Linked DNA regions of Homo sapiens. The protein of the gene in region 1 purifies or fractionates together with the protein of each later gene. This does not show direct contact. Each region holds a gene or a part of one and is shown in the gene's direction. Other genes may lie near its edges.

Evidence for each region.
Region 2: the proteins of ACAD9 (region 1) and SERPINB4 purify together in Homo sapiens (affinity purification with mass spectrometry; 2 studies listed by BioGRID and IntAct, with this or other methods). This does not show direct contact.
Region 3: the proteins of ACAD9 (region 1) and DBT purify together in Homo sapiens (affinity purification with mass spectrometry; 3 studies listed by BioGRID and IntAct, with this or other methods). This does not show direct contact.
Region 4: the proteins of ACAD9 (region 1) and PDK1 purify together in Homo sapiens (affinity purification with mass spectrometry; 2 studies listed by BioGRID and IntAct, with this or other methods). This does not show direct contact.
Region 5: the proteins of ACAD9 (region 1) and PDK3 purify together in Homo sapiens (affinity purification with mass spectrometry; 2 studies listed by BioGRID and IntAct, with this or other methods). This does not show direct contact.
Region 6: the proteins of ACAD9 (region 1) and PDSS1 purify together in Homo sapiens (affinity purification with mass spectrometry; 3 studies listed by BioGRID and IntAct, with this or other methods). This does not show direct contact.
Region 7: the proteins of ACAD9 (region 1) and PDSS2 purify together in Homo sapiens (affinity purification with mass spectrometry; 2 studies listed by BioGRID and IntAct, with this or other methods). This does not show direct contact.

What each region holds. Positions count from the first base shown.
Region 1 is NC_000003.12:128,900,120-128,903,619, forward strand, and holds part of ACAD9 (complex I assembly factor ACAD9, mitochondrial), read left to right. Parts: intron 1-1,156; coding exon 1,157-1,230; intron 1,231-2,433; coding exon 2,434-2,509; exon of another isoform or gene 2,510-2,513; intron 2,514-3,500. UniProt on the Homo sapiens protein: As part of the MCIA complex, primarily participates in the assembly of the mitochondrial complex I and therefore plays a role in oxidative phosphorylation.
Region 2 is NC_000018.10:63,636,759-63,639,007, reverse strand, and holds the end of SERPINB4 (serpin B4), read left to right. Parts: intron 1-884; coding exon 885-1,289; 3' UTR 1,290-1,749; downstream 1,750-2,249. UniProt on the Homo sapiens protein: May act as a protease inhibitor to modulate the host immune response against tumor cells.
Region 3 is NC_000001.11:100,188,627-100,190,834, reverse strand, and holds part of DBT (lipoamide acyltransferase component of branched-chain alpha-keto acid dehydrogenase complex, mitochondrial isoform 1 precursor), read left to right. Parts: 3' UTR 1-2,208. UniProt on the Homo sapiens protein: The branched-chain alpha-keto dehydrogenase complex catalyzes the overall conversion of alpha-keto acids to acyl-CoA and CO(2).
Region 4 is NC_000002.12:172,601,090-172,604,589, forward strand, and holds part of PDK1 ([Pyruvate dehydrogenase (acetyl-transferring)] kinase isozyme 1, mitochondrial isoform 2 precursor), read left to right. Parts: 3' UTR 1-3,500. UniProt on the Homo sapiens protein: Kinase that plays a key role in regulation of glucose and fatty acid metabolism and homeostasis via phosphorylation of the pyruvate dehydrogenase subunits PDHA1 and PDHA2.
Region 5 is NC_000023.11:24,531,286-24,534,922, forward strand, and holds the end of PDK3 (pyruvate dehydrogenase kinase, isozyme 3 isoform 2 precursor), read left to right. Parts: intron 1-371; coding exon 372-485; intron 486-2,643; coding exon 2,644-2,787; 3' UTR 2,788-3,137; downstream 3,138-3,637. UniProt on the Homo sapiens protein: Inhibits pyruvate dehydrogenase activity by phosphorylation of the E1 subunit PDHA1, and thereby regulates glucose metabolism and aerobic respiration. Can also phosphorylate PDHA2.
Region 6 is NC_000010.11:26,728,701-26,732,200, forward strand, and holds part of PDSS1 (all trans-polyprenyl-diphosphate synthase PDSS1), read left to right. Parts: intron 1-3,500. UniProt on the Homo sapiens protein: Heterotetrameric enzyme that catalyzes the condensation of farnesyl diphosphate (FPP), which acts as a primer, and isopentenyl diphosphate (IPP) to produce prenyl diphosphates of varying chain lengths and participates in the determination of the side chain of ubiquinone.
Region 7 is NC_000006.12:107,152,062-107,155,564, reverse strand, and holds the end of PDSS2 (all trans-polyprenyl-diphosphate synthase PDSS2), read left to right. Parts: intron 1-787; coding exon 788-946; 3' UTR 947-3,003; downstream 3,004-3,503. UniProt on the Homo sapiens protein: Heterotetrameric enzyme that catalyzes the condensation of farnesyl diphosphate (FPP), which acts as a primer, and isopentenyl diphosphate (IPP) to produce prenyl diphosphates of varying chain lengths and participates in the determination of the side chain of ubiquinone.

The sequences.
Region 1 (3,500 bases):
TGGGGTTTCAACATGTTGCCCAGACTTGTCTTGAACTCCTGAGCTCAGGCAGTCTACCTGCCTCAGCCTCCCAAAGTGCTAGGATTACACGTGTGAGTTACCATACCTGGCCACTTTTTTTTGGTTTGTTTTTTTTGAGACGGAGTCTCGCTCTGTCGCCCAGGCTGGAGTGCAGTGGCACTATCTTGGCTCACTGCAAGCTCCGCCTCCCGGGTTCACGCCATTCTCCTGCCTCAGCCTCCCGAATAGCTGGGACTACAGCTGCCTGCCACCACGTCCGGCTAATTTTTTCTATTTTTTAGTGGAGATGGGGTTTCACCATGTTAGCCAGGATGGCCTCGATCTCCTGACCTCGTGATCCGCTCACCTCGGCCTCCCAAAGTGCGTGAGCCACCGCACCCGGCCTTTTTTTTTTTTTTTTTAAATAGAGATGAGGTCTTGCTATGTTGTCCTGGCTGGTCTCGAACTCCTGGGTTCAAGTGATCTTCCTGCCTCTGCCTCCCAAAATGCTGGGATTATAGGCATGAGCCACCATACCCGACTGACCCTAAAACACATTTAAGGTCTCTGTTCATGTTGGGTCAGCTCTTTGTATTGGCCACAGGAAGTCACATGGTCATACCTAGCAGGCAGGGAAAGGGAGGGAGGTCCATCCCTCCTCACAGTGGGAGAGTGCTACAGTTAGATTGCAGGGGTGTGATTGTGTTAGAGTTAAGAATTGAGACCAGTGGTCCCAGTCTACCCTAAGGCTTCAGGAAATGCTGTTCTTTCCCTCACTTTGCTTGTTCTGGCTCTTTATATGCCTGGTTCTTTTCATTCTTAAACTTCTGCTAAATGTCACCTTAGAAAAGTCTGACATAGTCCTTAATAAAAATATTATTATCCACCCCCTTGCCAACCTCCATTTCTCTTTATCGTGATGCCCTATTTATTTCATCCATAGCACTGATCACAATATTACATTGTTTTGTTTATAGCTTTTGTCTCCCAAATCAAAGTATGAGCCTCCACAAAGATAGGAACTTTGTCTTTCTATACTGTCCTACCAAACATTGGATGGATGGATGGATGGATGGATGGATGAATTGCCTGCTTGCAGGTCAGATGCAGAGTGGTTTGCATTGTCAGATGATATCTTAAATTTCATGTGTTTCAGCTTGTGAAGTCCATTTTGAAAACACCAAGATACCTGTGGAAAACATCCTTGGAGAGGTCGGAGATGGGTTTAAGGTGAGTTGCCAGCCACAGCCCCTTGTACCAGGTAGTGTCATGAGTGCAGTTTGTCGCCCCCAGCTTTTGCCCTATCCCTGCTCGTAGCAGAGTAGCCTGTGCATGGCAGGTGACTTTGCATGGTTATCTGTTGGGAAATTGGCAAAATGGACACTGGAAAATTGGCTGGCTCCTAGAAGAAGTGTATGGTAAGGATTAGGAATTTCCCTTCACCTCTGAGGCCCTATTCGCCTCGAGCGGAGGCTAAGATTCCCTTCTGCAGTGGGTATGAGAAAGCAGCCTGTGGGCTCTGGTGAATCTCAAGCTCTGTGTACCACAACCCTGGTCTGCATCGCTGCCCTACTCTTTTCTTTTTGGACTAAGACTTATTTTTATCAAGAGATGATTCATATGACAAAGGACTCACCATTTTAAAATATTATTTCAGTGGTTTTTAGTATATTCACTATGTTGTTCAAATATCTCACACAGAACATTTCCTCACCCCAAAAAGAAATGTTGTACCATCCAGTATGACCCTTACCCCATCCCTTGGCTGCTACTCTTTTACTTTATGTCCCTATGGATTTGCCTGTTTGGAACATTTCATAAAAATGCAGTCATATACAAGATCCAGTCTTTGGTGACAGGCTTCTCTCACATTGCGTGATGTTTTCAAGGTTCATCTCTCTCATAGCATGAATGAGTAATTCATTCCTTTTATGGCTGAATTCTCTTCTGTTGAGTGGAGATACCACATTTTGTTCATCCATTCACCAGCTGATGGACATTGGGGTTGTTACCGCTTTTGGCTGCTATCAGTAATGCTACTTATGAACATTCATGTCAAGTTTTAATGTGGAAATAACGTTTTCAGGTATTTTGATTTATGCCTAAAAGTAGAATTTCTGTTTGGCCCAAGTTGGTCTTGAACTCCTGGGCTCAAGCGATCCTCTTGCCTTGGCCTTCCAAAATGCTGGTACTACAGGTGGGAGCCACCATGCCCAGCTCTGGCATGGTCCTTTGGAATAACGTTCAGTGGTCTTGTGTGTGGGGATGTTGGTAGAGCTGCAACAGTGACTGAACCACCTTGTTCTGAGGCATTAGGATGGTGCTTTCTCCCAGCTTGAGGGAAGGCAAGCTGATCCACCTGGCCTGGTTTCGTTGCGGCCTCCTCCCTCTGCCTCCTTCAGGGCCCCTGGGCTCTCCCTGTTCTCCCTGCAGGTGGCCATGAACATCCTCAACAGCGGCCGGTTCAGCATGGGCAGCGTCGTGGCTGGGCTGCTCAAGAGATTGATTGGTAGGTAAGTTAGGGACAAGGCCCTTTGTGCCCCACCCCCTGCTGCCCCGGCTCCAACCCTGGAGGCTCTGCCATTCCCCCGGCCCCTTCCAGGCCAGTGCTGAACCAGGCTACCAGCCTGAGCTCAGTCCCTGGGCTTTTGTGGAGACCAGAGGGTCTCCTCAGCCTGCCCCTGAGGTTTGTTGTCTTCCGCATTCCTCTGTTTCACCTCCACCCGGGTGATGCTGACTGGGGGACAGGCTTTCTGTCTGGGGTGGGGATGGGGATTGGGGAATGGGCTGTCTGTCTGGAGTGAGAGGTTGCCACTGACCAGTAGGAGCAGAGCTGCTTGGTGAGCACACACCAAGAACCAGGCTTCCAGGATACACGGCCTCTGGTTCCCAAGGTCCGTGCCTCCTGGGTGACTCTGCATGGTGGGTGGGGAGTAGGATCGGGTTTGGAACCCAGGTCCCTGGGCCCCTGGATCTTACCTTTGTTCTATTCTGTCAGAATACCCCAAACCTCCATTTTCCTTTGCCAGTGAACTTAGAACAGCCCTGTAACCATCCTGGTTGTGGTGGAAGCATTTGCGGGGAAATGGGGGTACCCGGGGCAGCACACCCCTAAGTGCTTTATGAAGCTCCTCTTTGGTGCCAGGCTCTGGGCCTGTTTTGGCTTCCCTCCATTTTAGAGATGAGAAGACAGAGACTCAGAGAGGGCAAGCGATTTGTTCCAGACTGTGCTCCTGGACCCAAAATGAAAGCTGTCAGGCTCCAGGCTCAGGGCTCTTCTTACTCAGGCACAAGGCCTCTGGGGAGCTCCTCTGCTGGGGCTCTGAGTGGGGCTCGGCCCTCTACACCTCCTGAGTGCACCACACCTGGGAGAGCCTGTGGAGGACATGGCTATGGCGGGGCGGGGGTGCTTCTGCCTGGGAGAGGCGCCATGTCACTCTTGGGCCCTTAGAGCTCAGCACTTTGTCACAGCCACACGCCTGGAAGCCCCAGCCTGAGTA
Region 2 (2,249 bases), on another chromosome or scaffold:
TGAAAGCTTAGTTTTTGTTTGTTTGTTTGTTTTTATTATTATTATTATAATACTTTAAGCTTTAGGGTACATGTGCACAATGTGCAGGTTAGTTACATATGTATACATGTGCCATGCTGGTGTGCTGCACCCATTAACTCGTCATTTAGCGTTAGGTATATCTCCTAATGCTATCCCTCCCCCCTCCCCCCACCCCACAACAGTCCTCAGAGTGTGATGTTACCTTCCTGTGTCCAAGTGTTCTCATTGTTCAATTCCCATCTATGATTTAATTCCATCTATGGCTTAGTTAATGATTAATTTATTAGAGTTACATGCATTGGATATCAATTTGATGATATTATTATGCAGCAATTTAAACTTGACTGGGAGAAATATATACCAATGTGAGGAAAGTTTACAAATAGGCCGAGTAGAAAAGGGAATACAAATTTAGGAATTTAGGGAATTACAATTTAATAATTGCAATGTGTACTAAATAATGTATACAGAAAAATATGATGAGCCTATTAAAAATTGACACATGTAGTAGGCTGTTGGCACAAGAAATAGTGATACATACAGTTCATTGTGTACAAAATAATGTAATCATATTTTACATGTGTATCATACAGTTGTATACATACATATGTACACATATACATATACGTAAAAACATGATTCTGTTTTTACATACATGTATATACATATACACATATAACCCAATGTATTTATATATTCAGGACTCATATTTTACCTATTAGAATAATAATGTCTATTAAAGTGAACCTTCTGTATTTCACATTTATTGCCAAAATAACGAATCTCCACATAGTCAATTCATTGTTAAGGTGTATTAGAGATCGACAGTTAGTCATATCAGTTTCTTTTTTCCATTTGTATAGCTTGAAGAGAAACTCACTGCTGAGAAATTGATGGAATGGACAAGTTTGCAGAATATGAGAGAGACATGTGTCGATTTACACTTACCTCGGTTCAAAATGGAAGAGAGCTATGACCTCAAGGACACGTTGAGAACCATGGGAATGGTGAATATCTTCAATGGGGATGCAGACCTCTCAGGCATGACCTGGAGCCACGGTCTCTCAGTATCTAAAGTCCTACACAAGGCCTTTGTGGAGGTCACTGAGGAGGGAGTGGAAGCTGCAGCTGCCACCGCTGTAGTAGTAGTCGAATTATCATCTCCTTCAACTAATGAAGAGTTCTGTTGTAATCACCCTTTCCTATTCTTCATAAGGCAAAATAAGACCAACAGCATCCTCTTCTATGGCAGATTCTCATCCCCATAGATGCAATTAGTCTGTCACTCCATTTAGAAAATGTTCACCTAGAGGTGTTCTGGTAAACTGATTGCTGGCAACAACAGATTCTCTTGGCTCATATTTCTTTTCTATCTCATCTTGATGATGATAGTCATCATCAAGAATTTAATGATTAAAATAGCATGCCTTTCTCTCTTTCTCTTAATAAGCCCACATATAAATGTACTTTTCCTTCCAGAAAAATTTCCCTTGAGGAAAAATGTCCAAGATAAGATGAATCATTTAATACCGTGTCTTCTAAATTTGAAATATAATTCTGTTTCTGACCTGTTTTAAATGAACCAAACCAAATCATACTTTCTCTTCAAATTTAGCAACCTAGAAACACACATTTCTTTGAATTTAGGTGATACCTAAATCCTTCTTATGTTTCTAAATTTTGTGATTCTATAAAACACATCATCAATAAAATAATGACATAAAATCATTTTTGCTTTACCTGTTTTCTCTCTGGAAAGGGCAAGTGTCCAGTTACACATAGGAAAGATAATTTAGAGATATATTAATCATATATAAAGGAAAATTAAAAACAGAGTAGTTCATGATGAGCCTGGAGTAGAAGGCATATCCCAGAACAGGAGGAGCCTTGTAAACCACATAGGAACTTCCTATTTTATGCTAAAGGGATAAGAAACTCATTACAGGCTTTGATGGTTGTTTGTCAAAGAGGGGCATAAAATTATCATATCCACATCTAGAAAATACATCTCTGGCTACGCTGATATCAATGGATGCGAGGAAAGAACAGTGTGGTTACCATATATAAATTAGGAAATCATTAGAGTATTGGGAGTGGAAATGGAGAGAAAGAAAGAGCCTGGGGGAATTATTTAGGAAATAATAGTTACAGAAAGACATCTAAGTTGCTGACCTATCTGACTGGATGGATGGAAGAATATCTTGTTTCTGAGAGAAAAAAAGACTTTG
Region 3 (2,208 bases), on another chromosome or scaffold:
CCAGGCTTGTCATAATAAGCAAATAACCTCAGAGCAGACAAAGTGATTCAATCTAAGAACCTTGAATTTCTCTCCTTTTCACCTCAAAATTTCTATTCTCACACTTTCTTTTTGTTTCTCTTTCCGAGAAGTGGTTCTCCATCAGCAAATACCAACTGTTTTCTGTCCTCTATTATTTATTCCATCTCTTCCTCCTGATCCCTGCCCCATGTTGAACCCCCATTGCCCCACTTTGATCCTTCAGTCTCTTCCTCACATCCAGAACTGTACCAGATTTACTCCCTTAGCACACTGATTAAAATTTATTTCCATTTCCTTATGGAGGAGGTATTAGAGACTGATCCCAGACCTCTACAAATTTCATTGTGGCAGGGTAATGTTATGTGTCCATAAACCTTGTTCCTTTTCTTTCAGCCTGCAGTTAGGTAGAGCCATGTCATTTATTTGTAACTATTAGAATATGGGTATATGGGTTGAAGTAATGTAGGCCATTTCCAGACATGGCCCATAACACTTCTCAAGAGATTCTTCATATTCTATCTCTTCCCCTCCAACATGCACCCTTCAAGGTTGAAGATGGCACCACACAAGATAGAAGGAGCCAGTGTTCCAAATGACTAGGCAGAGCAGAATGCTCCCCTCCCTACACCCTAGCACCAATTGGTTTGGATGTGATAGTTGAATAATACACTTTTATTGTTTTAAGACATTAATATTTTGAGATTAATCTGCAAGTCTAGTTAGTAAAACTCGAACTCTGAGCTGTCTAATGCAGTAGCCTCTAGCCACATGTAGCTATTTAAATTTAAATTTTAATTTTAATTAATCAAAATTCAACTCAGATATACTAGCCACATTTCAATTGCTCAGTAGCCACACTAATTAAATTTAAATTTAAATAGCTACATGTGGCTTATAGCACCATACCAGATAGCACAGATGTAGACTGTTTCCATCATCACAGAAAATTCTATTGGATAGTGCTGCCTTAACTAATAAGACACAAATGTTCTTATTTTTTAAATAGTCCCTAAAACAAACGAAAAACAAAGAACTCCCTTCTCTAATGGCAAATTTCAGTTTGCCTAAAAGAAGACTCAGAATGCTTTTCTTATATTGTTACCTCTGACTGCCACTAAATGAATAAATTTCCTGTCTTGCTCCTTCTGCCAAACTTCTTGAATGGGTGATCTTTAACTCCTTGCAATCCTGGCTTTTTTCCCCAGTGCTCACCTGTAATCAGTGTTGGCCACAACTCCCACCCAGATGTCTCCTAAATAGTTCTCTGAACCCACCTCTGTCCTGATCTACAGACATTCATTCCAATGCTTTAGCATTTCAAGGTCATCAAATGACTCAGTGACATCTCAGACAGTCAGACAGACCAGGTCAACTATGAACTATTTATGCCAAACCTTACATGGTTCATGTTATCCTTGCTATCCCATCAAAATAACCACAGGCTTTTTTTTTTTTTTTTTTTAATTTTTGAGATGGAGTCTCACTCTGTCACCCCGACTAGAGTGCAGTGGTGCGATCTCGGCTCTGCTCACTGCAACCTCCGTCTCCTGGGTTCAAACAGTGCTCATTCCTCAACTCCCAAGTAGCTGAGATTACAGGCATGCACCATCACGCCTGGCTAATTTTTCTATTTTTAGCAGAGATGGGGTTTCGCCATGTTGGCCAGGCTGGTCTCGAACTCCTGACCTCAAGTGATCTGCCCGCCTCCACCTCACAAAGCTTTGGGATTACAGGCATGAGCCACGGTGCCTGGCCTGCAGCCTCCTTTATTTTACAAAAGGCATTACCACTTAAACACTGAAGATAGCACGAATCTCTGATGTTTGCAAGTTCAGAATAAAATGGAAATGAAAATTCATTATGTGGCAGTCTCAGTACTGAGCACAAAGGCTTTTAACCACAAGCAAATTACTGTGCTAGCCAGACCGTGTGAGAGAACTCCAGGCCAGCTTGCTAAAACTGAGCAGGAGAATTTGGAGAGAGTCCAGAGGAGAGCCACAGAAACAACTGAAGCATGACAAGAATAATTGCAGTTCTGTTATAGAGAGGTCATCTATATCAGGCTTTTATGGAGTACCATGTGGAATGTTACCACGCAGAGCATGGGGAACAGCTGTTGTGACTCAACAAGAGACAGGACAGAAGAAATGAGAACAGGTGGAAGATCAATAATTTAGGTTTGATATG
Region 4 (3,500 bases), on another chromosome or scaffold:
AAATTCTTTCTGCCTTCTATAACAATTGTATGCTCAGTAAATACATAAGGAATAATGAACTTAATAACATTTTTTTCCATTCTCAAAATGATACTTAAATGACTCAGTACAACAAAGAAACTGAGTAGTAACCAGTGCAAAACTAGCAAAAGGATGAAATACACAAGAAAATGAGAGAATTTAAGAGGAGTAGCAAAACAGCACTGCTAAAGTTACGGGTTTATTTTAAAGTTTAAAATAGAAGTAAACAAGCAAACATACTGATAATGGTTAGGCTTTCTGTCCCCACCGCACAAATCTCATCTTGAATTATAATCTCAACATGTTAAGGGAGAGACCAGATGAAAGTAATTGGATCATGGGGTTGGTTTCTCCCATGCTGTTCTCGTGATAGTTCCCATGAGATCTGATGGTTTTATAAGTATTTGGTAGTTCCTCCTGCATTCATTCTTCCTGCTGCCCTGTGAAGAGGTGCCTTCCACCATGATTGTGAGTTTCTGGAGGCTTCTGCAGCCTTGCGGAACTGTGAGTCAATCCTTTTTATTATAAATTACCCCGTCTCAGGCAGTTCTTTATAGCAGTGTGGGGATGGACTAATACTCGCTGGGTTAGCTGGGGTAGGTAAAGCCACAGCTGTGGCAGCAACCAGCTAGTGGGTGTCCCTTGATGGAGGCTTTGCAGGCTGCAGCAGAAGGGACCCTTCAGATAAACCTCCAGTCAGGAAAGGAAAAGGCCCAAATAAACAGTATTTAGATTTTTTTTTAAAGGACATAACTACCAATAGAGATTTAAAATAATCATAAGAATACCATTAACTTTATGATAAAAATTTTGTAAGTGGAGAAGAAATGGATATATTTCTAGGAAAACAGTAGAAGATCCATCTAAGATTTTGACAATTTAAATCAACCACTAAGGAAGTGGAATCAGTAATCACAAGTCCACCTCGCCAAAAGACAATTTTTGAAAGATGAATGTTACCAAAACATCAAGAAACTGATAATTCCTGTCTTATAGAAACTTTGAAATGAGAGAAAGCTACCCAACCCATTTCAGAAAGTTAGTAAAATCTCAAAGCTACACTTGAGCAAAGACTGTGAAATATTAATAGACCAATCTTGTTTATGAACATAGATGGAAAAATTGCTGATGAAATATTGGCACATTGAATGTAGCAGTGCATAAAATATTGTATCATGAGCAAAAGGAGAATCTTTCCCAGGAACAGGAGGATGTTTTAATAAAAATATGTAATTTACCTCTCTACAGATTAAAGGAGAAAAACTATATGATCACATCAACAGAAACAGGAAATTCAGTTTCTTTGGGGGATAGTTGTAATTAAAAGTGCTTAACTCACTTATATAAGCCATTAGTGGATGTTACAATAAACCTCGTATAGTGTCAGATGTAAGACAGACATACTGGAATTGTCTATGAGGTTGGATCCATGGGCCTGCCATGGAAAATTTGTTGAGTAATACGTCCAAGGCGTCACCATTTGCCAGGCGTTGCAAGTATCACCATTTGCAAGGTGTTAACAAAAAGTTACCTGCCTATGGATTCTCCTTTCTAACTCTGACCTAATATTTTGGAGCATAGAGGAAAGAAACATCTTATGTTTCTGTGTTTGGGTAAACATTAGACTTATAAAAGGGCCTAGGGTTTTTTTGTTTGGTAAACCATTGCCTTTCCTGCTTTGGTGTGGCAAATCTTCCTTTGGAGAAAAAGGTCCCTTTAATCTTAAAACCAACTCTCAGTGACCAACAAAAGCAACAAATAGGAACAACCACCCATTAAGAACCATCAGGTGATGCCTCATTTGCTGTGGTGCACAGCTGAACTTGATTGTTACTCTTGGATCAGGGTTGGCTTGATAAGGACTCACTTAACCAATGGAAAGTAAGGTTAAATCTTTGTAAGCAATGCTCCTGATGCGAATCACCTGGAGATCTTGAGCAAATGCAGACTGGTTCAGCAGATCTGGAGTGGGGCCTGAGATTCTGCATTTCTAACAAGTTTCCTGGTGATATTAATGCTGCTGGTCTGTGAGCCATACTTTGAGTAGCAAAGGACTAAAGGTTGTGAGATAAACTGCTTTTAGCAGCCCAAAGGGCCAGCTGGAAAGACGAGACCAGTTACAGAGCAAATGGCAAGACAGATCTGGTAATCTGATTCTTAGAGTACTTAAAAAAGATAAGAAGGATCTATTCCTGATATACAGGGTACTTGGTGGATGTGTCCATGACCTCGAGATCGAAAACCCATTAGTTAATCTTTGTGACATCTGAATTTTAAGGATCTTACCCAGTGAACATATAACTAGTGGAAATCCTGATAATTGGCTAATGCAAGGAAGTGATACCCATGTGTAATGCTTATCTTTGTATCCATTTCATGGGGAAGGTCATGGAAGACGACAGCAAACTTGAGTGGTTAATGAGAGCTTCACTAATGTTGTCTGCTGCAGGCAATAAGTGAAGTCTCTGGCAGTGGGAAGCATGGACCCAAGACCGAAAGCTCTGGCACTTTATAGCAGTGGTGGGGGGTAGATAGGACTTAGTGTGGCCCCTTAAAGAGCAAGGTCCAAGTGATTTTCTCTGGTGAATGTCGATGTGGATCTAGTCTCCAGGGTTAGATCCAGGCAGGTAACATCAAAGTCAGTTGATAAGACCTCTTATGCCTGTGAATGGAAGGCCCTGATAAAACTTCATTATTAATGTTCTGCATTAATTTAGCGGATGACTATAGTCATTTCACATAATCTAATACATGAATGTCCTGTATGGGTGACTGCTGAGGGTTTAACAAAGGAGAGTCCATTTATATTTGGCTGGTAAGATCGATGCTTCTGTCACTACTGATGGGCAAGGATATTAACATCAATATCTAAAAAAATTCTGAGATTTGGATTGTGATGTGTTAAATTTCTAGACCAATTTGAGGAGAATTTAACAATAGCTTTTCAATTTATGAACATGGCGTATATCTTTTTTGGCGGGGGGTGAGGACAGAGTCTTGCTCTGAGATTACCCAGGCTGGAGTTTAGTAGCATGATCTTGGCTCACTGCAACCTCTGCCTCCTGAGTTGAAGCAATTCTCCTGCCTCAGCCTCCCCAGTAGCTGGGATTACAGGCGAGCGCCATCATGCCTGACTAATTTTCGTATTTTTAGCAGAGACAGGGTGTCGCCACCTCAAGGGATCCACCTGCCTTGGCCTCCCAAAGTGCTGGGATTTATAAGCGTGAGTCACCGTACCTGGCCAGACATAGCATATATCTTCCTTTACATAGATTGCCTTTGATTTCTTTCATTGTTACTTTGTAGTTTTCAGCTTACAGATTCCGCGCATATTTTGTTAGACTTAAATCTAAGTATTTGCTTTTTTTTTAACTTACAAATTTTTTTAAAAAAACGTTTTTCCTCTCCAATGTTCATTGCTAATACATTTCACGTTTGAATCTCCAGTTCAGAAAAATCATGGCCTCTGGAGTTTTACT
Region 5 (3,637 bases), on another chromosome or scaffold:
CTGACCTCAAGTGATCCACCTGCCTCAGCCTCCCAAAGTGCTGGGATTACAGGCGTGAGCCACTGTGCCCGGCCTTGGAATGTGCTTTTAAAAAAATGATAAAATTTTGCTTTAAAATGCTAAAAAAGCATTAGTCAAAAATTAGAATATTTCTATTATTATCCAAACATATAAGACATGTTTTTGCAGGGTGAAAATAAAGGGGTTGTTTGCCATAGAAGAGGATATACATCATTGTAAAGGTTGAGTCAGTAATTTATTTGATTTAAATCTGAATCAAGAATTTATTTTAACCTTCTCTGAATGGTCATCATATAAAATGTGTTAGCATTTGTGCCTGTCTCACTGTATTAATTTTCTTTTCTCAATAGGCTGGATTTGGTTATGGTTTGCCAATTTCCCGTCTGTATGCTAGATATTTTCAAGGAGATCTGAAACTGTATTCCATGGAAGGAGTGGGTACTGATGCTGTCATTTATTTGAAGGTACTGCGTTTTATTTGTTAGTATGAGGCATCTTTGCTTTTTAAAGCTGTAAGTTCTAATCGCTGATTGAGAACAGCACTGTATCATCTCTTAGATTCATCTCAGATTTACTTCATTTTCCCATGAAAACCATGTTATGCCTCACGCTTGATTCTATGCTCAGATAAAGCAAAATATGAAACGTGGAGGTATAGAAATTAAAATACTGATTTTGGCCGGGCGTGGTGGCACATGCCTGTAATCTCAGGACTTTGGGAGGCTGAGGTGGGTGGATCACCTGAGGTCAGGAGTTCGAGACCAGCCTGGCCAACATGGTGAAACCCCATGTCTACTAAAAGTACAAAAAATTAGCTGATGTGGTGGTGCACGCCTGTAGTCCCAGCTACTCAGGAGGCTGAGGCAGGAGAGTCATTTGAACCCGGGAGGCAGAGGTTGCAGTGAGCCAAGATGGTGCCACTGCACTCCAGCCTGGGCGACAGAATGAGACTCCATCTCAAAAGAGAAAAAAAAAAATTAAAATACTGATTTTTAAAACCATAATTTTAAATTGTGACTTAAAAAACTACATGCCTATTGAAAGGTCTGATCTAAAAGAAGGCAGATTTTCATAAACTGAAGTATTTTGGTCTTTTGTTTTAAAAACTCACTGGCTTTCCCAAAGCTACAAGAATTCAGTAATCATAATATGGTTATGTAAAAGATTCATTTAATAACAAACTTCTCTGTAACACAGTTTTTCTTATTCATTGGTGATCATTGGGCTTTTATTTCTAAACTCTAGAATATTTGTAACATTTTTTTGAATAGGTAATATAGGCACATAATAAAAATTTAAAAGCTACAAAAGGAAAAATGAAGTCTCTCCTCCCACTGGCCCTAAACCGCCAGTTCTGTTCAGCGAAGATCACCACCGGTCTCAGCGTCTTATGGATCCTCCTAGAGTTGATTCTACATTTATAAATATGGGAAAAATAGAATTTTTCCCACATAAATGAAATTTCAGCACCTTCTTATTTTTTTTACTTTGCAATCTGTCTTAGAGATCTTTCCAGATCCATTTATGTAGAACTGGCTCATTCTTTTAAACAGTGGCATAACATGCCACTGTGGGTCAAGCATCCCTAACCCAAGAATCTGCAATCCAAAATGGTTGAAAATCTGGAACTTTTTGAGCGCCAACGTGATGCTTGCTCAAAGGTCAAGCTTAAAGGAAATGCTTATTGGAGCACCCCAGATTTCAGATTTTCAGATTAGGGATGCTTAACAGGTAAGCACAATGCAAATATTCCAAAATCGGAAAAAATCAGAACTACTTCTGGTCCCAAGCATTTCTTTCTTTCTTTTCTTTTTTTTTGTTTCTTTCTTTTTCTTTTTTTTTTTTTTTGAGATAGAGTCTCACTCTGTCACCCAGGCTGGAGTGCAGTACTGCCATCTCGGCTCACTGCAACCTCTGCCTCCTGGGTTCAAGCCATGCTCCTGCCTCAGCCTCCTGAGTAGCTGGGATTACAGGTGTGAGCCACCACACCCGGCTAATTTTTTGTATTTTTAGTAGAGACAGGGTTTCACCATGTTGGCCAGGCTGGTCTCGAACTCCTGACCTCAGGTGATCCACCTGCCTCAGCCTCCCAAAGTGCTGGGATTACAGGTGTGAGCCACTGTGCCCGGCCTGTTCCCAGGCATTTCAAAGGGATACTCAACCTATGTATGTGATACCAGAATTTAACCAGTTACTGGGAGTATTTATCTTAGATGCCCATGCATCTAAGTAATGCGATATTTAATATACTTGATGGTGTGTGTTTATAAACCTGGGATGCATGAGACTGTATCTCTTCCTGGGCCCTTTGTGAGACCAGTCACCAGGTATAGTCAAAACAGTTGAGCATCTCAAAGCAGTATGAGCTGAATTAAAATATGTTTTGTTCTGGTCATGTGTATTTCAGTTCTGATTTTGAATGAGCAAATGTTTTCATTCCTTTAAAAAAGCTTTAATGTTTTCCTGGCCAGTCTAAGTAAACTACTAAGGTGTAATTTTAATATCATTTTGAAAATATGTATTAAGGTTTCTGATGTTTTAAATAATAAAATTTGGGTTACTATTTCACTTGAGAAAAATGACACTGTCGACCTTTGGTGTATATTTTTGTTTCTCCAATAGGCTCTTTCAAGTGAGTCATTTGAGAGACTTCCAGTTTTTAATAAGTCCGCATGGCGCCATTACAAGACCACGCCTGAAGCCGATGATTGGAGCAATCCCAGCAGTGAACCCAGGGATGCTTCAAAATACAAAGCAAAACAGTAATATACCACCTTGATTTCCATTACAAAGTATCTGATTTGTCTGAATAAAGGTGTCCCACTCACTGTTCCAGGAATTCTTGCAGTGTAGAGGTATTCACAACAGCAAGCAGGGATTTGGCCTGCCATCAATTTTATTTAAAAAGCAATTAAGTTTGCAGTTTGTCCTCATAAACGTTGTAGGTTGAAACTGAAAAATAAGTTAAAATGATCAATCAAGATAAAAGGTGATCTATCCATCCAATGGAATATTATTTGGCCTTAAAAAGGAAGGACATTCTGATATGTGCTGCAACATGGGTGAATCTTGAAGTCATTATGCTAAGTGAAATAAACCAGACATAAAAGGACAAATACTATGATTCCACTTATGTGAAGTACCTAGAGTAGTCAAATGCAGAGACACAAAGTGGAAGGGAGGTTGCCAGGGGCTAGCGACGAAGATGGAATGGGGAGGCATTGTTTCATGGGTACAAAGTTTCAGGTGGAAAGATGAAAAACTTCTGGAGATGGATGGTGGTGATGCTTGCACAACAGCGTGAATGTACTCAATGCCACTGAACTGTACATGTAGCAATGGTTAAGATGGTAAGTTCTGGGCTGGGTGTGGTGGCTCACGCCTGTAATCCCAACACTTTGGGAGGCTGAGGCTGGATGATCTCTTGAAGCCAGGAGTTCAAGACCAGCCTAGGCAACATAGTGAGACCTCTGTCTCAGCAAAAAATTTAAAAAGGTAAAATTAGCCGTGTGTGGTGGTGTGGGTCTGTAGTCCTAGCTACTCAGGAAGCTGAGGCGGGAGGATCACTTGAGCCCAGGACTTCCAGGCTGTAGTGAGCTATGATTCGCACCACTGC
Region 6 (3,500 bases), on another chromosome or scaffold:
CTGAAGAGTTGGTATTCCATTGTAAGGAAGCTCTTAACTGTATGGGCTCTTGGATTCTTATTTTATTCTGTATCTTTTTTTTTTTTTTTTTTTTTTGAGCCAGGGTATCACTCTGTCACCCACGCTGGAGTGCAGTGGTGCAATCTCAGCTCACTGCAACCTCCACCTCCCGGGCTCAGGTGATCCTCCCACCTCAGCCTCCTGAGTAGCTGGGATTACATGCGGCTGCCACCATACCCGGATGACTTTTTTGTATTTTTAGTAGAGACGGGGTTTTGCCATTTTGCCCAGGCTGGTCTCAAACTCCTGGCCTCAAGTGATCGCCCACCTCGGCCTCCCAAAGTGCTGGGATTATAGGCGTGAGTCACCGTGCCCAGCCATCTTATTTTATTCTGTAGATTATAACACTGTCATTATTTTAATACTCAATTATCCAACGTATGGCCAGTAGGGGAGGCCCTTTAACCTGGCTCTGTGTCCTCCATCATTTTTTCAGCACCCCATTTCTGGCAGGAGATATTCAGCCCTGTTATTCACTGTTCTCCAAGGAGCCCACATTCCTTTTGGTGGAAAATGGTGTTAAGAAACCAGAATTTGAGTACTGGGTGTCATCGTTTCTAGACCCACTCAATGGACAGAGCTAGGAAATACATGTATGTATTATATGTAATGTAGGTAGATACGTGTATATCTTTCTGTACCCATCCATACTTATTCAAAACCACGAGGTATCAAACAGATAGTTCCAAATCCATCTAACACCACAGGATTTGTGGTTTATTCCAGGATTCCATCTTTCCATATTTGTAACCCCCTTCCCAAACAGTGAGAGACCTGGCTCCTCTTCTCCGCGGTGTATTTATTTGCACAATCTGAGAATATACCATAGGAGTTTACAAATTCATGACTCATATCTCTGTGAAAAACAAACCCAGTAGCTAGAATTCAGTATTTATCATTCCTTTTGTCTTGGGCCTGAGGATAATAGAATCAAAGCACTGTTCAAAAGTTACCTTTCTCTACGTATCAGTGTGGTTGTGTTATTATTTGGAATATATTAACCCATTTATGCCTAGTGTTCCATTATTGGAATGCTAAGCTTGTGGAGTTATTTCTATCCTACTGCTCAAGGTCATTACCAAGGTCTGATTTTTCACAAAACAAATTTGCAACCTCCAGCATAAATGGGTTAATAGTTGGTTCCTTTTTTTTTTTTTTTTTTTTTTTTTTGAGACGGAGTCTTGCTCTTTCGCCCAGGCCGGAGTGCAGTGGCACTATCTCAGCTCACTGCAAGCTCTGCCTCCCGGGTTCACGCCATTCTCCTGCCTCAGCCTCCCGAGTAGCTGGGACTACAGGTGCCCGCTACCACGCCCGGCTAATTTTTTGTATTTTTAGTAGAGATGGGGTTTCATGGTGTTAGCCAGGATGGTCTCGATCTCCTGACCTCGTGATCCGCCCACCTCGGCCTCCCAAAGTGCTGGGATTACAGGTGTGAGCCACCGCGCCCAGCCTAGTTGGATTCATTTTTATTCCACTTTAGGGATTCCCTCTCATTCTTGCTGATTTCGTGTTTTGGTTTTGAGCGTTTTGTTATTGTTGCTGTTGTTTTGAATGTTTGAAACAACGTGGCTGGGCACAGTGTCTCATGCCTGTAATCCTAGCACTTTGGGAGGCCAAGGCAGATGGATTGCTTGAGCCCAGGAGTTTGAGACCAGCCTGGGCAACATGGCGAAACCTCTGTCTACAAGGAATACAAAAATTAGCTGGGTGTGGTAGTGCACACCTGAAGTCCCAGCTACCTGGGAGGCTGAGGTGGGAGGATCACCTGAGCCCTGGGAGGTCGAGGCTGCAGTGAGCTGTGATCACACCACTGCACTCCAGCCTGGCAACAGAGTGAGACTCTGTCTAAAAAAATAATAATAATAAAAAAAATAAAAGACATTAATGTAGCTCCAAAAGTCAGAACTATACAATACAGTAACTCTCCCTTTTGCCCTGTTTTCTTCCCCTACCCCCTTGTAGGTAAGCAGTCTCGTTCACTTCTGGTTCCTCCTTCCTGGGTTTCGTTTAGCACAAACAGGCAGACACAAGTATGCTATCTTCCCTTCTTTCTCACAGCAAGAAGTAGTACCCTAGACTACTCTGCTTTCCTTTTGCATTTCTTCAGTTAACAATTTATTAGGAAAATGATTCCACATTGGTTTGTAGGATCTTCCTCATTTTTAAAACCACTGTATCAGGGCTGGGCTTGTAATCCCAGCACTTTGGGAGGCTGAGGCGGCCGAATCACGAGGTCAGGAGTTCGAGACCAGCCTGGCCAACATGGTGAAACCCCTTCTCCACTAAAAATACAAAAATTAGCTGGGCGTGGTGGCACACACCTGTAATCCCAGCACTTTGGGAGGCCAAAGCAGGCGGATCACTTGAGACCAGAGTTCAAGGCCAGGCCGGCCAACATGGTGGAACCCCATCTCTACTAAAAGTACAAAAATTAGCCAGGTATGGTGGTGGGTGCCTGTAATCCCAGCTACTCGGGAGGCTGAGGCACAAGAATAGCTTGAACCCGGGAGGTGGAGGTTGTAGTGAGCCAAGATCACGTCACTGCACTCCAGCATGGGCGACAAAGTGAGACTCCATCTCAAAAAAATTAATAAATAAATAATTTAAAAATTTTTTTAAAAGCCTCTGTATCAGATCCCATTATGTGGACATAGCATGGTTTATTCAGCCAATCTTCTATACATGGGCATTTAGGTTTCCAGTTTTACAATTACAAACACTACTGCAAGGGCTGATCGTGCATAAACCTATTTTTGTGTTGTGAGAGGAGTGCCTGCAGGGTGAATTTAGGGGTAATTGCACATGTGGTTTTGTTAGGCACCACCAGATTTCCCTCTGTTGGGTCTGTACCAGTATGTGTTTCCACCAGCAGCTTTTCGGAACCTCTTTTCCCACAGCCTTACTAACTAAATGTGCCATTACACGCTTGAGTTTTTGCCAGTCCAGTAGAGGAGAATGTATTGCAGTGGAGTTTTAATTTACATCTCTCCTTTCTGAGTGAGGTGGAACATTTTTCAGATGCTTAAGGGCCATTTATTTATTTGTTTATTTATCGGAGTCTCACTCTGTCACCCAGGCTGGAGTGCAGTGGCACGATCTCGGCTCACTGCAACCTCCGCCTCCCAGGTTCAAGCAATTCTCCTGCCTCAGCCTCCCAAGTAGCTGGGATTACAGGCGTGAGCCACTGCGCCCAGCCCTTCCCAGTCTCGTTGAGACGTGGCTTGTAAGGATGTGATGCAAGGTGTGAACCTTCCCCAGAAAGAAGTGCATACGCACAGCACAGCCTGGCTGCAGCATCTGCTTCAAACAAAACAGTCAGCCGAGCTCCACTTTCTTTGACTTAATCATTCTTCATGCTCCACCCATTTCCGGAAAGATGTGAGGCATCCCTCTGATGCTGAGCGCAAGTCTGTGCACCTCTTTGCCTTCTTGTATGTTGT
Region 7 (3,503 bases), on another chromosome or scaffold:
TACTATGTGTCTTTCTTGAATTTTCATATGGACTATTGTGTCAACATATGGTGTTAAAAAAAAAGTTATTAACTAAGATATTAGTGAAGCCTTCCTCACATAAGAATATCAGGCTGCTGGCCAGGTGCGGTGGCTCACACCTGTAATCCCAGCACTTTGGGCAGCCTAGGCAGGTGGATCACTTGAGGTCAGGAGTTCGAGACCAGCCTGGCCAACATGGCAAAACGCTGTCTCTACTAAAAAATACAAAAATTAGATGGGTGTGGTGGCGCATGCCTGTAGTCCCAGCTATGTGGGAGGCTGAGGCAGGAGAATTGCTTAAACCCAGGAGGCGGAGGTTGCAGTGAGCCGAGATCGCACCACTGCACTCCATCCTGGGCGACAGAGCGAGACTCCATCTCTTTAAAAAAAAAAAAAAAAAAGGGAAGAATATCAGGCTGCTGAATTCAAAATGCCAGAGATGTAAATGCCCTCCGCCTTCTTACTGCCATCCCCCAGCATGGCACATTTCAAGATATTAAGGGATGGGAGTCAGGAGGAGCTGTAATTAAGCTGATTGGAACCTATTGTGCTGCTCTGGAGCACAGACACCAAGCAGCCTTAGGGAATGAGTGCCTCAAGATCACTGGGAAATGATGTCCTCTTTTCCAGAAAATAACGTAGCAGAAATACTCAATCTATACTATTTCTCCCTTTCTTTGTTTTCCATCTCCCCTCCCCAATTTAATTGTGGTGCTTACTGTGTACCTTTAAAACTGACTTTTATCATGCATTTGTTTCTTAACAGTTGCGAGAAAGAATCAAAGCTGGCAAAGGTGTGACTTCAGCTATTGACCTGTGTCGTTACCATGGAAACAAGGCACTGGAGGCCCTGGAGAGCTTTCCTCCCTCGGAGGCCAGATCTGCTTTAGAAAACATTGTGTTTGCTGTGACCAGATTTTCATGACATCAAATTAAAAAGACACTATTGTTAGTTAGCTGAAAATCCTAGGGAATGAGGTTGATTGGGAGCGCTTTCACGATGCGTTAATGACTTTTAAAACATATGCATTTTTCCTTCCTTTTATCACATTGCTAAATGAGTTCTGCTTTCTTTTTGGAACTGCTACAAACAAAATTAGAAGAAAAAAAGGTCAAGCAGTTTTCACTTGTCACGCCAGAAGCACACTTGAGGCTGCAGTCGCAGAAATAATTAATGAGATTCGCTCCTGTGACCTCAGCAAATGGACAGGAAATAAGTCCTTATTGATTGGACCGAGCCAGGGATGGCGCCAGGGCGGTGGCCTGTGGTTTTTCCTGCTAGAGAGGACAAAGCAAGTTGGAAGCTGCAGGTGTCAAGAGAAATGCTCTCAATACCAACCAGGGAGGATTGTCTAATCAAAAACTAGTGACCAATTTGTCATAATGGAGAGTAGTTCAATGGATTGAGAAAAATATGTTTTATTTGTTGGCTTGTAATTATGTCTCTGGATTATTATTATTTTTTTTTTAGATGTAGTTTTGCTCTTGTTGCCCAGGCTGGAGTGCAATGGTGCAGTTTTGACTCACTGCAACCTCCGCCTCCTGGGTTCAAGTGATTCTCCTGCCTCAGCCTCCCGAGTAGCTGGAATTACAGGCACCTGCCACCACGCCTGGCTAATTTTGTATTTTTAGTAGAGATGGGGTTTCACTATGTTGGTCAGGCTAGTCTCGAACTCCTGACCTCAGGTGATCCGCCTGCCTCGGCCTCCCAAAGTGCTGGGATTAGAGGCTTGAGCCACTGCACCTGGCCTCATGTCTCTGGATTTATAATGCAGTATGAATATACTTTGTGCTTTATGGTTTTTATAATGTCTTTTTGGAGAAATTGCCGAAAAGTTGCCAAATACTTGAAGTAGGAGATTAAAATGTTATCAAATGTTAAATTGGTTATATTAGGAATAGTCTGTTTTTCTTTCCTGAAGATCAGTTTTTTTATTCAAACACATTTCAAAGAACCAAATTTTTTTTTTCTTTAAGGAAAAAGGAGCTTTTTTTCAAGTGAAATGTATTCATTTGTAATACTTTGGTTTAAGGCATACTTTAATTTTTACGAGTTTCAGAAACAGAATTTTTGTACTAGGGAATTCATTGGTGAGAGTGTTCTTTTAACCTCAGAATGTCAAATTTTGGTCTTGAACCACAGACATCCAATTACAGAAAGAATATAAGCAATCTCACAGGCCTGCAATCGGACACTGTCTCTGTGTGGTTCATAGGAGATGATTTTTGAGGTTTGCACTCATGCAATTTGAGAACACCGTTGACAAGAAGGCTGAGTTTACATAAATGATCTAGATTGAAACTCAGCTACCTTTCTTCCTCATGTGGTGTAATTACAGCCCTATCTGGAGACAGCGAATACAGCAAACAGATTTTATTACCTAGTTCGCTCAAACACTACATGAAGTTATTTTAGTTAAAGCCCTCCCCCAAAAGTTATAAAACCATTTTATCAGGGCCCAACATGTGGCATGCAATGAAGAGAAAATGTAAAGCTACAGAGGTTAATGTATTGTATTATAAAATATTTTAAGTGTACTCAAAATATCATAATTGTACAGTTTATGCCACCATAATTTGAGGCCTATAGATTTAGCTTAAGAGAACACTGTTCTGTTTGAAATGCTTTCTGTCACTGAAATTGGCTTAATTAGTAACCATGGATAAGATGCTTTAGATCAGACTAGGTTTTAATCATTAACTTCCACAAAGAAGTCATACTTTGCGTTAGGTGTGCTGGTTGGATGTGCAGGAACTTCAGCAAGCAGTAGGTTTTACTAAGCAGATGGTCGGGCACTGCAGGGCACCAGGCAGGATCCTAGGGCGCCTCTTATTCTGCGTTAGCATCTGGTTTGCTGTATGACCTTGCACAAGTCACTTCCTTCTGAGCCTCAATTTTCTCATCTGTACAATGAGATTCAAAAGTTGACCTGAAAGTCAAGTGTGAAAAAAAAAAAGAGATTAAACAAGATAATTATGAAATTCTTTCCAGGTTTGTTTTATTTTCTGAAAGTTTACTATTCTTGACTGTCTAAATAGCAAAGATGCTGTGTGAGGTTCAGGGAGGAGGGAAGGTGAAACCCAAAGAGAGGCCCTGAAGGAATGGAGAGAGCTTAATGGCAAGCTTCCTGCCAAGCTGCCTCTGCATGACCTAAAGGATTCCAGCTCTCCTATGTGACATGTAACCCTGGACTTTTCTGTCTCAACACCTGCCTTGCTGCTTTCTTCGGGACCTTTCCTACCTCCCTGTCATCTTCCCAGCTGCTCTCGTGTCCTTTATCCCATCTCCTGTACCTTGCCATCCTGACTCCCTGGAACCTGGATCCCTGGGAGCAGTAGCCCCCTGCTGCCTGCTGAGTGACAGAGCTCTGCCTCCCCCACAGGGGTGGCTGGCCTCCTTCCTCAGGCCCCACTTAGCAGAATTCTCACTTCCTCAGCATCACGGCAGGCTTTTACAGAACATAACAAGTTGGCTAGTTCAC